3 linked regions of the Homo sapiens genome follow. The protein of the gene in region 2 purifies or fractionates together with the protein of the main gene of each other region. This does not show direct contact. Each region holds a gene or a part of one and is shown on either strand. Other genes may lie near its edges. The genes, in order: IFT74, IFT172 and KATNIP.

Evidence for each region.
Region 1: the proteins of IFT172 (region 2) and IFT74 purify together in Homo sapiens (affinity purification with mass spectrometry; one large-scale study listed by BioGRID and IntAct). This does not show direct contact.
Region 3: the proteins of IFT172 (region 2) and KATNIP purify together in Homo sapiens (tandem affinity purification; one large-scale study listed by IntAct). This does not show direct contact.

Annotation. Positions count from the first base shown.
Region 1 is NC_000009.12:27,053,860-27,057,513, reverse strand, and holds part of IFT74 (intraflagellar transport protein 74 homolog), read right to left. Parts: intron 1,906-3,654; coding exon 1,742-1,905; intron 1,181-1,741; coding exon 1,055-1,180; intron 1-1,054. UniProt on the Homo sapiens protein: Component of the intraflagellar transport (IFT) complex B: together with IFT81, forms a tubulin-binding module that specifically mediates transport of tubulin within the cilium. Binds beta-tubulin via its basic region. Required for ciliogenesis.
Region 2 is NC_000002.12:27,458,613-27,462,266, forward strand, and holds part of IFT172 (intraflagellar transport protein 172 homolog), read right to left. Parts: intron 3,225-3,654; coding exon 3,147-3,224; intron 2,906-3,146; coding exon 2,657-2,905; intron 2,482-2,656; coding exon 2,403-2,481; intron 1,218-2,402; coding exon 1,097-1,217; intron 911-1,096; coding exon 766-910; intron 257-765; coding exon 167-256; intron 1-166. UniProt on the Homo sapiens protein: Required for the maintenance and formation of cilia. Plays an indirect role in hedgehog (Hh) signaling, cilia being required for all activity of the hedgehog pathway.
Region 3 is NC_000016.10:27,738,570-27,742,223, reverse strand, and holds part of KATNIP (katanin-interacting protein), read right to left. Parts: intron 2,184-3,654; coding exon 1,304-2,183; intron 1-1,303. UniProt on the Homo sapiens protein: May influence the stability of microtubules (MT), possibly through interaction with the MT-severing katanin complex.

The sequences.
Region 1 (3,654 bases), on a different chromosome or scaffold from region 2:
CTAATTAGATATAAGAATGATCAATTTTTTTCAGACCGTAGTTATTGACTTTGTACATGACACATAATGCTTCATTCAATCATTCAACAAATAATTGCTGAGTACCTACTATGTGCCAACCAATACCACAGGGCAAGGAATAAAGTAAACGAGACAGACATTGTCTCTGTCCCGTCAGAGCTCTCAATCTAGACCTCACACACTGTTCAAGTAATTATCAGCAAGATGAGTGATATGAAAAGGGGGCTGCAGGTATATATATCTACGCATCCTATGTAAATAATTGGAGATATGAATTAAGAAGTTCAAGGATACCTGGATTGCTCTTTATAGCATTATTTCAATGGTTTTAAAACTAGAAATTACCTAAATATCCAACGAAAGGGAATTGGTTCAATATATTATGCGACATCCATGCACTAGAATATCATTAAGCTATTAATATTTTTTAAAAGTCAATATATATATTGACAAGGGAAAGTACTTATGATGTATAGTTAATCATGAAAAACAAGCTCCTAAATGATATGTACAATATGGCACAATTTCTATAAATGCATAGAAATAAATGTGTACCTAAGTATATGCATAAATATGTGTATACACATATCTATCTATCTATCTATCTATCTATCTATCTATCTATCTATCTATCCATTGACTAAAAGAACCCACACTAAAGCAACAATAAGCATTCTCTCTTCTGGGTGGTGGGGTACTAATCATTAGAATTTATTTTATTTGTGATTTTATGGATTTTTAGTTTCTGTATTAGTAATGTTTCACTTCCAAAATTTTTAAAATATACTACCCCATATATCTTAACAGTTGTGCCCAAGACAGTATCTAACAGAGTTGGCTTTCAATATAGGTTTATGGAAGGTAAGAAAGCAGGAGTCCATTCATTCTGAATGAAGACTGTACAGAATCTGGCTGTCTTAAAAGTCAGAAAATCTAGAAGGTATATAAAGCAAATTTTAAAATAAAAAATTGATTGTTTTGGGGTGAAAATATAGACTAAGACAATTTCAAAGTCATTTAAAACATTTTTTACCTGAGAATGTGTCTCATTTTCTTGCAATTGTGTTTTTAGTGCCTCATACTCTATGTTTTGCTTCTCCATTATTTTCTTAAAGGCATTTCTGTGGGTTGATAATATCATTCTCTCCTGATGTAATTTCTAGAAAGATCCAAATAGAAGTGACAGGTTATAGAAAATATGTAGTAAGCCAATATAAATCATATTTAACTTAATTTCAATAACTATATTCTGGTAAAATTATATCAAGGCTATAACTACTCTAAAACCCGTTTGTAAAAATATCCTTTGAACTATAAGCTATGTTAACATTATCTGTATTAATAACTCTATTAATGCTGCCATATCTCTCCCGACCCTACCAAATTAAGTCTAAATTAATGTAAATGGCAATGGAAAGCCACTGACAAGTTTCAGGTAGGATAGAGTCATAATCTAAACTGCATTTAACAAAGCTCACATCTGCTGAAATGCTCTGTATTAAGTAGCAGCTTATACCTTGCTTTTCAATTTTTGCTTTTCTTTAAAACTTTAAGTCACTCTAAATTCCAACTACATATGTAAACATTTTTATTTTTTCTCACTTATATATATAAAATAATCAACTTAAAATAATAAATCCTATAAACCACAAATATATTACATTTGATCAAGAAAAAAACAATCTGAATTGTAATTCTGTAAGACTTGGTTAACATTTACCTTTATCTTTTCTTCACCTGATGATTTTAAAGCTGGCAAATCATTATATATCTCCAGATCAGTTGTCATTTGCTTAATTTTGCTTTTTAGAGAATGCTGTTCTTCAGTCATCTTACTTTCTAGAAGCTCCATTTTCTGCAGATCCAACTGCAGACGTTGAATGTCTGAAACATAAGAATTTAAGGTGATAATTAATCAAAATTTTATTCCTTTCACATAAGGAAATGTAATGCAACTATTAAAAATCATGTTTTTTAAGAATATCTGTAAAAGAAATATATGTTCACTGTAACCAGTGAGATAATATAAACTAAGAAAAAAAAATACTCATCCCCTCAATAACCAATTTCAGGTAACCAATATATTAGGGAATCAAGGTAACCTGATGTCTATTAGCCACAGCTGTCTCCATGCTAACAAACATTTAAGTTTTTTTCTTGCTTAGTAATATAATCTATATTATGAGATAAAGACACATTATTTTTAACAGAAGCATGACACAGTTATGTAGGGAAAAAACCAAGTTATAAAACATTATATATATATTTGAGCACAATTTTATAATTGCACACATAATCAACTCTTACTATCTGTGGTAGTTATGTCCTATGAAGTTATTGTGAACAATGAGTTAGCAAATATTGAACTATTGCTCCCAAAGGAAATACAGAGTTAAGTTCCTGTGAGCCTTTAGTCACATTTTAGTCAATTAGCCAATACATAATCTTGCTTTATGTTTGTTTAAAGACATTTTATTTACTATAGGTTGTAGATTCACTAACATTGAACTCACAGCCAACAGCACTGTAACTTATGCCTGAATTAAGTTTACCTATCACACATTTTCTCCATAAGGCTATGATGTGCCTTAGGAACACTTAGCACATCAGCACTTTGCTTGGGGCCATTTTAAATGGCATGATCACCAACAGAAAGCACAAAAATGCAAAAAACATGCCACTAAATATACTGCAAAAAGGAAACCTCTTTATAGTATGAGAACTGACATAAGAAGGCAGAGTGTTGCCTTTTTCAACTTCTGTTGGCAATGTGCATGTCAGGCTGTTGAAATTTTTCACGAGTCTGCACATGCCCACAAATGATCATGAAAATGCTGCAAGGATTGATTTGGGGGGTACAAAGTAACTTTAGTGAGAGGGCAAATTCACAATATGAAATATATGAATAATGAGGATACCTGTGTGTGTCTCATTCTTCCATTCAAAAATATCAAGCATCTACTATGTGCCAGGTGCTGAGGATATAATAGCAATCAACAGAGACATGGTTTTCACTCAGGGAGCTGTATTTTAGAGGTAGAAGCAGGCAATTAAATAAGTATTTACAATAAACTGGATAAATATGAAAAGAGTAGCACAGGGTGCCATAAAAGCATGTAGCAGGGATGAAGAGAGCTCTCTAAAGATATGCCTTTCAATTAAAGGCTTAAGGTTTATGAATATCACACAAAGAGGAAGGTAAAAGTGTTCCAGCAAAAACAATCAGCATGTGCAAAGTCTAGAGGTAAGAAAGTCTAGTACCTTTGAGCCAGTAACAAGTTCAGCATACTGAATAGTAAATGAATATGAATGAATTTGAAGAGTAAAAAACAATGCTTCGAAAGTCACTGATTTGAGAAAACAGGCTGTTATCCAACCAAAATTTTTAAAGTTAGTATAATTAAGCCAGTATTTCTTGAATGTTTCCTTTTATCCCTTTAAGAGTTTTAAAAGTCAACCACAGCGACATACACTATTTAAAAATATATATGTGTATGTACACGTAAATACAAATATGTATATAGCAAAACTTAAATGTTGTTGCAAAGAGTTTTGTTTTGTTGGATTCTTATCTCTACCACGGTTAGAAATAGTTATGAGAATCAAAGAGCTGAACAAGTGACTAAGGCTTAT
Region 2 (3,654 bases):
TCCCTTCCTTTCCCTATGGCTAGGGATCAAAGTGGCTCAGACTGTTTTTTGGTACTCTTTGTCAGCTTTCAGGGAGCCAAGCGAAGAGGAGAAACAGGTATCAAGGAATGAGGCCACAATGCCACTAAGGCAGAGTTCTCTTATCATGAACTCCACCCATCCCTACCTTGTGGGCTTGTTCCCAACGACCAGCCTGGGTGTACATGTCTATGGCATCTTTTGTCCGATCTCCCTTAGTATAGAGCTCCTCAGCAATCTGTAGTTGATGGGAGGTAGATACAAAAGGTCAGAGCAACAGACTTAAAGCAGCTTGAATGAGGAAAGAACAAACCTTGGCTGGGATGGTGGAGAGCCTGCGATACAACCTTGTAATAATAGAGAAGAAAAGATGAGTATGGGTGTCTCATACATTCTACCATTTAAAAAGAAAGACCAGCCCCAAACAGTGGAATCCAAAAGGGCCTCACATTTCTGCAATGCAAAGCAATTTTATATCATAACTATGTTAGCATTATTCATGAAGAATCACGCTGACTGGAACACAGCTAGAGACTCACTTTATATATCTGGGGTGAAGGGCGATATCTGTGTCACACTGGAATGAAAATGGGAAAGTAAACTGTTCTCTTCCCCTTCAAGGTGATGATGCTGTTTGGAGCCCAGAAAGAAGGATCTGGTGAACTTGCCTCCACTTCCTGCTTTGGGTTCTCTCATTGTTATCCTCTACTGCATTGCCTCGTGCTGCGGAAAGGGACTCTTCCTCACCTCATACTCCTGCAGGGATGCATAGTGTTGGGCCACGAGAGGATAGTATTTGGATGCAGTGTTCCGGTCCTGTAGATCTAATATATAAATTGCCTTCTTCCACTGGCGGGCACCCAGGGCGGCCTCAATTGCCTTAATGGAGCACCTGGCAAAGTTGGGAAAGATATAAATATGTAGGATGAAAGATGAAGATGAATGGAGGTAAAAGGACCCTTTAAGCACACTTCAACCTACATTTTGAGATCTCTTCTTTAAGGCCTTGGTGTCCTTACTTGCTCCACTGCCCCTCACTTCACACCTAAATCTCCTTTACATTCCCATACTCCCATACCTGGCTTCGATGTAGTGATTAATGGCTGCATCAAGCTGCTTCTGCTGCACCAGGTGGTCCCCCCATGCCTCCTCTAGTTTCACCACCTCCACTGGGAAGGCCAATCGAGCCAGCTCTACCGCTGCCAGGGAGAGAAAAGATGCTCAGCCCAGATTTCCAGGGATGGGCCTCAGGAAAAAGGTAGGACAGGGAGATGAAGCATGGAGAATAGGTAAGAAGGGGAGGAATGGAGGACTGGAGCCAGGCATCCTGAACACACGCACCAAGAGGTGTGGGGAAAAGCAAGAGAGATCAGATTGTTACTGTGTCTGTGTAGAAAGAAGTAGACATAGGAGACTCCATTTTGTTATGTACTAAGAAAAATTCTTCTGCCTTGAGATTCTGTTAATCTATAACCTTACCCCCAACCCCGTGCTCTCTGAAACATGTGCTGTGTCCACTCAGAGTTGAATGGATTAAGGGCGGTGCAAGATGTGCTTTGTTAAACAGATGCTTGAAGGCAGCATGCTCCTTAAGAGTCATCACCACTCCCTAATCTCAAGTACCCAGGGACACAAAAACTGCGGAAGGCCGCAGGTACCTCTGCCTAGGAAAGCCAGGTATTGTCCAAGGTTTCTCCCCATGTGATAGTCTGAAATATGGCCTCGTGGGAAGGGAAAGACCTGACCGTCCCCCAGCCCGACACCCGTAAAGGGTCTGTGCTGAGGAGGATTAGTAAAAGAGGAAGGAATGCCTCTTGCAGTTGAGACAAGAGGAAGGCATCTGTCTCCTGCCCGTCCCTGGGCAATGGAATGTCTCGGTATAAAACCCGATTGTATGCTCCATCTACTGAGATAGGGAAAAACCGCCTTAGGGCTGGAGGTGGGACCTGCGGGCAGCAATACTGCTTTGTAAAGCATTGAGATGTTTATGTGTATGCATATCTAAAAGCACAGCACTTAATCCTTTACATTGTCTATGATGCAAAGACCTTTGTTCACGTGTTTGTCTGCTGACCCTCTCCCCACAATTGTCTTGTGACCCTGACACATCCCCCTCTTTGAGAAACACCCACAGATGATCAATAAATACTAAGGGAACTCAGAGGCTGGCGGGATCCTCCATATGCTGAACGCTGGTTCCCCGGGTCCCCTTATTTCTTTCTCTATACTTTGTCTCTGTGTCTTTTTCTTTTCCAAATCTCTCGTCCCACCTTACGAGAAACACCCACAGGTGTGTAGGGGCAACCCACCCCTACAAGAGGTGCCAGGGAACCAGATGGGCAAGAGTCCACAACAGTAAAGGATGGCTTATAGGTGGCTAGTACCTTTCATGAATGCGTTGCCTTTACGGTAGCACTCCAGGGCCTTCTGTGGATTGTGAATCTTCTCAAAGAGATCACCTGCCTGTTAACACATACCACATTACTATGATACCCCTACAACACAAAGAACTAAGTATTAGCTCCGAAAACAAGGGAACACCAGCAGTCAGGAAGCGCTCTGCACCCCAAGACTCCTCTGGGTAAGGGAAGGGTCCTGAGCTCTGGAGATAAGGGCTAGGAAAAGGAAGCCAGCATACCCTTTCGTAGAGTTCCCCCTTGATAAGGGCTGCAGTGATGTGTTCTACCAGCTCTGTGTTGGCTAGCAGTTCCTCTCGGGTCAGCACCAGCCGAGCAGCTTTGGCAGGGAGCCCAGCTTTGAGGTAGAGGCTGATGGCTGCTAGCCCATCCCCTTGGCTCTCCTGTAGTTCACCTGCTCGCTCCTCTTGCTGTGTGTCCATCAGCCACTGGTAGTAACTACGACGTAGCTTCTCCAGGGCTGGGTGCCCCTGGACATGCACAGAGGACAACTAGGAGTCACATCCCCCTTCCTACCCTTCTGCCTCCCATGCTTCTCCAATCCCTCTATAACAAGGGGAATCCTCCTGGGTCAGCAGTATCCTAACTCCTCACCACATCAAGTCCAAGCCCCAACCCTGTTCTGGTTTCTATGGCCTCCTTGACAAAAGGAGGTTTTTGAAATTGGCAGAACCAAATTCTGAACAACTGTGGAGAAGATAAAACAGGTACCTTGGCTTCAGCCACAGCGATACACTCATCCCAACGGTGTAGCTCCTGGTACATGCCCATGGCCTCCTCCACAGCATTCTAGGGGAAACAGGCAGAGCAGAGAGGGACACCAGAAAGATATGAGGATCAGAAAGCAGCAAGCTCTCCTCAGCCTGGCTAAGATGCCAGCCCATGAGGACCAAAAGCCTTTTAACTACTATACCAACAGAAATACTGGGAAACTAAAAGAAGCTTAAGCTTCAGGGCTCCTTATTTGCACACACCCTTTCCAAGGCAACTGTTCTTTTTCTTGAGATGGAGTCTCACTCTGTTGCCGAGGCTGAAGTGCAGTTGTGTGATCTCGGGCTCACTGCAACCTCTGCTTCCTTGGCTCAAGCGATTCTCCCACCTCAGCCTCCCGAGTAGCTGGGATTACAGGCGTGTGCCACCACTCCTGGCTAATTTTTTGTATTTTTAGTAGAGATGGGGTTTCACCATGTGGCCAGGCTGGTCTTGAACTCCTGACCTC
Region 3 (3,654 bases), on a different chromosome or scaffold from region 2:
GTTTGACTCCTAGCTGCTATCCGTACTCTCCAGGAGCCAAGTCTGAGTGCAAATATTGAGACTCCCTGCCTTGATGGGCTCTCCTTTCATAATCAGGAATGCCCTTGAAGACCATCTAATCATCTACTGCAAAGTTCACAAAGCTCTCAGGGTGAGTCCTGCCAGCAGATGTGCCTTTTTTTTTTTTTTTTGACATATACAGTAGTTTAAAAATAATCTCAATCAGTTGCCAAAGTCAAAAAATAAGAAACATTTCTGGTTTCTCTTGAAAAAAGTAAAGAGGAGGTCTGGTACAGTGGCCTTGCATTCATTATTTTTTTTTGAGACGGAGTCTCACTCTCTTGCCCAGGCTGGAGTGCAGTGGCACAATTTCGGATCACTGTAGCCTCCACCTCCTAGGTTCAAGTGATCCTCCTGCCTCAGCCTCCCAAGTAGCTGGGATTACAGGAACGCACCACATGCCTGGCTAATTTTTGTATTTTTAGTAGAGTCAGGGTTTTACCATGTTGGCCAGGCTGGTCTCGAACTCCTGGCCTCAGGTTATCTGCCCGCCTCGGCCTCCCAAAGTGCTGGGATTACAGGTGTGAGCCATTGCGCCCGGCCTGGCCTTGCACTCCTAAATGCTTATTAGAAACCTGAGTGGAGTGGCAGCCGCCCTGTGGGTGGGCTTATGGTCTCCAAATTGCCAAAGTCCTCACTATTCCCTGTGCCACTTCCAACACTCAGGCAAGTGTCAATTGCTATGCATCATCACACTTGTGTTATTATTTTTTCTTTTTTTTCTTTGAGACAGAGTCTCGCTGTGTCACCCAGGCTGGAGTGCAGTGGCGCAATCATGGCTCACCGTAGCCTCGACCTCCTTGGCTCAAGCGATCCTCCTACCTAAGCCTCCCAAAGTGCTGGGATTACAGGCCTGGCCACTGTACCCAGCTATTTTTCTAACAGTACAGTTAAGGATAAAGTGAAGTGACTAGAGACCGATGTCTCTATGAAAGGCAGGAGAACAAAGTCTTTTGGAAAATGGCTTGGAAAAGCCATGTGTTGCAAGAAAAATGGGCAAAGGGACATACCTTGGTGGCAATGACAAATACATCTATGAATTTACCATGCAAAATGTGTCTTGCCCATTTCACTCATGTATGCATCTCTTTGGCCCCTGAGACAGTGATTTTGTGACCCTTAGTTGAGAACAACCATCTTGTTGTGCAGATAAGGAAACTGAGGTCCAGGAGCTAACTGGCTTCATGCCAATTAGAGGGGCTGGGATGATGATGCCCAAGTCGGGCTGCTCTTTGGAGCTTACCTCTGCTGGCTGGCTGGTCGTCCCCATGACTACTGCTGCCAGCATCCTTCCTTGAGCCCCTCCTCCCACTAGCAGGGCGCTCTCTGTTGGGGGGCTGGTTAAAGATGTCTGAGTCATCACTGTGGACTTTGGTGGTTGCCCTCTGGGGTCTCTCCTTGGTGTTGACACTCCGGCTGGTCCCCCACCCTGGCTCATGCCGTAGGCCTTTATCCCTGGCCTCGGTCTCTCCAGGACCCTCACCGATGACATCGTCTGATGGGAGCCTGCCCTTCCAGGCCAGGGGCTTCTCGGGACTAAGCCAGAGGGGTTTTGGCTTCCTGCCTCCCTGCTTCCTGTCCTTGCCGGTGGGAGAAGGTTGTAACCAGGATGGGGTTTTCCCGGGTGGCTCACAGATTTTTCTGCCCATGAGGTTTTCCAGTTGTTGGATGAGAGAGGGCTCCTCATGGACAGGAGGGCACTTCACAGGTGGGGAAGTGGCAGGAGCACTGGGCATGTCACCCATCGAAGTGGGGACTGCCGACAGTCTCAAATATTCCTCTAACTGGGACAAACTGTCTTTCCTGCAATTAGTAGAATTCTTTCTTTTGCCAGACACATTTCCTTGTGAAGAAAGCTTTGCATCCGCTAATGTTTCAGCTGGCGGTGAGCAACCGAGACCAAGCTCCTTGTCCCCGCTGGCACCAGCCATCTCATGGGTGCCTTTGCTTTCTTCCGAGTGAGCGTTCATGGCCTCCTCTAGTTGCTCGCTCTTCTCGTTCTTCTGGTCAACCAGGATGCTGTGGTCAGCTGGGGCCTCCCTATCTCCTTTGTCTAACTTGCCATTGAAGATGAGGTTTCTGTTGACGTAAAGCTTCACGTTCTTGGCACCAATGTCAAGATCCTGAAACCATAAGATTTAACAAAGTGAAGATGCATAGCATCAGACTGATGTATGAAATTTTGGAAGTCGAAGATACCAAAAAAAGAAAAGAAAATGTGAAATGCTAGAAATGCAAGCTTTTGAAAACCACAGTGCTGGGGGTGTGAAACTAGGCTTGGTCTCATTTCTGTGGGAACCGCTACATACTCTATAAATCAAAGGACTTTCACAAAGAGACGGCCTCAATCGCTGCCTTCGTCATCATTACCTCCTGTCGGGACATTCGTAATAGCCTACTAATGGGTCTCCCTGCTTCCTGTCTCTTGCTACTTTAACTTGGACTTCACATTGCCACCAGAGTTCATTTCCTACCAGAGCAAATCTGTCCAGTCATTCCCCTGTGTGAAATCCTTCATGTTTTTTCACAGCCTATAGCAGTGTTCTTTAAAGTCCAGTTCCTGAGACCATCTGCGTCGAAAAGCCTGGAGTGCTTATAAAACAGCTTTCCTGGCCTCCGTGGGCATCATAATTGGGAGACCGTAAAAGCAGAGGCTGAGACAAGGACTCGGGTGCAAGTCGAGTATTTGGCAGGTGATTCCAAGAGGAAATGGGGAAAGCAAGATAGGGCAGGAAAAAGGAAAAACCCAGTTTTTTTGAGCTGGTCACTGCTGTGGCCAACTGGTGCTCCTTCCCACGGGGGCCCTCTGCGGCACTCCAAGATCTCACTTTCCCCAACCCTAGTCTTCACCTATCTTAAAAATGGCTCCATCATTGAAGCAGTGGCCAAAAACCTCGTGGCCCCCTTGATCCCTCTCTTTCTCACTTGCCCATCCAATCCGCCAGCTGTCCCTCGCCTCTCTCTCCAGAACACTTCCTGGGTCTGACCTCTTTACCTGGAATGTGCTGCTGCCTTCCTTGCCCAGGCCACCAGGGTCTCTACCAGAGACACCACTGCCGCCTCCTAATTGGTCTCTCTGCTTCCACTCTGCGTTGTCTCCTCCAAATCCCTGCACTCACACTTCATTTTCTATGCAGCAGTGAGTTTTTTTTTTTTTAACTGAAATCAGATCATGGGAGTCTTCTGCTTAAATGCATGTCGCAAATGTCTCTCCAAGACTGGGACATTTATCCACTGCTTGTTGAAGGCTGCCCTCAGGGCACTGATGCCCCAACACATGCACGAGCTGAGTGTGCTCCCACGGCAGAGCACCCCACGAGCACCTGAGGCAGGGCACTGTCCACATGCGGGGACTGTCCCATGTTCACGGCAGCTGCAGTTGGAAGGGAGCCAGGAGGATGCCGTGTGAGGACCACTGCCTCAAGGCAGCCTGTAGGTAACTTCTGGACTCAGAACAAGTTCTCCGGATGATTTCTTCACACGACGGGGTGCAGAACCATGCCGATGATGGGATAAATTCCAAAGCTCTCCACATGACATACAGTAACCTTCACAAATGGTCCCCACCTCGCTCTCCTCTCTCACTGCCAGCCT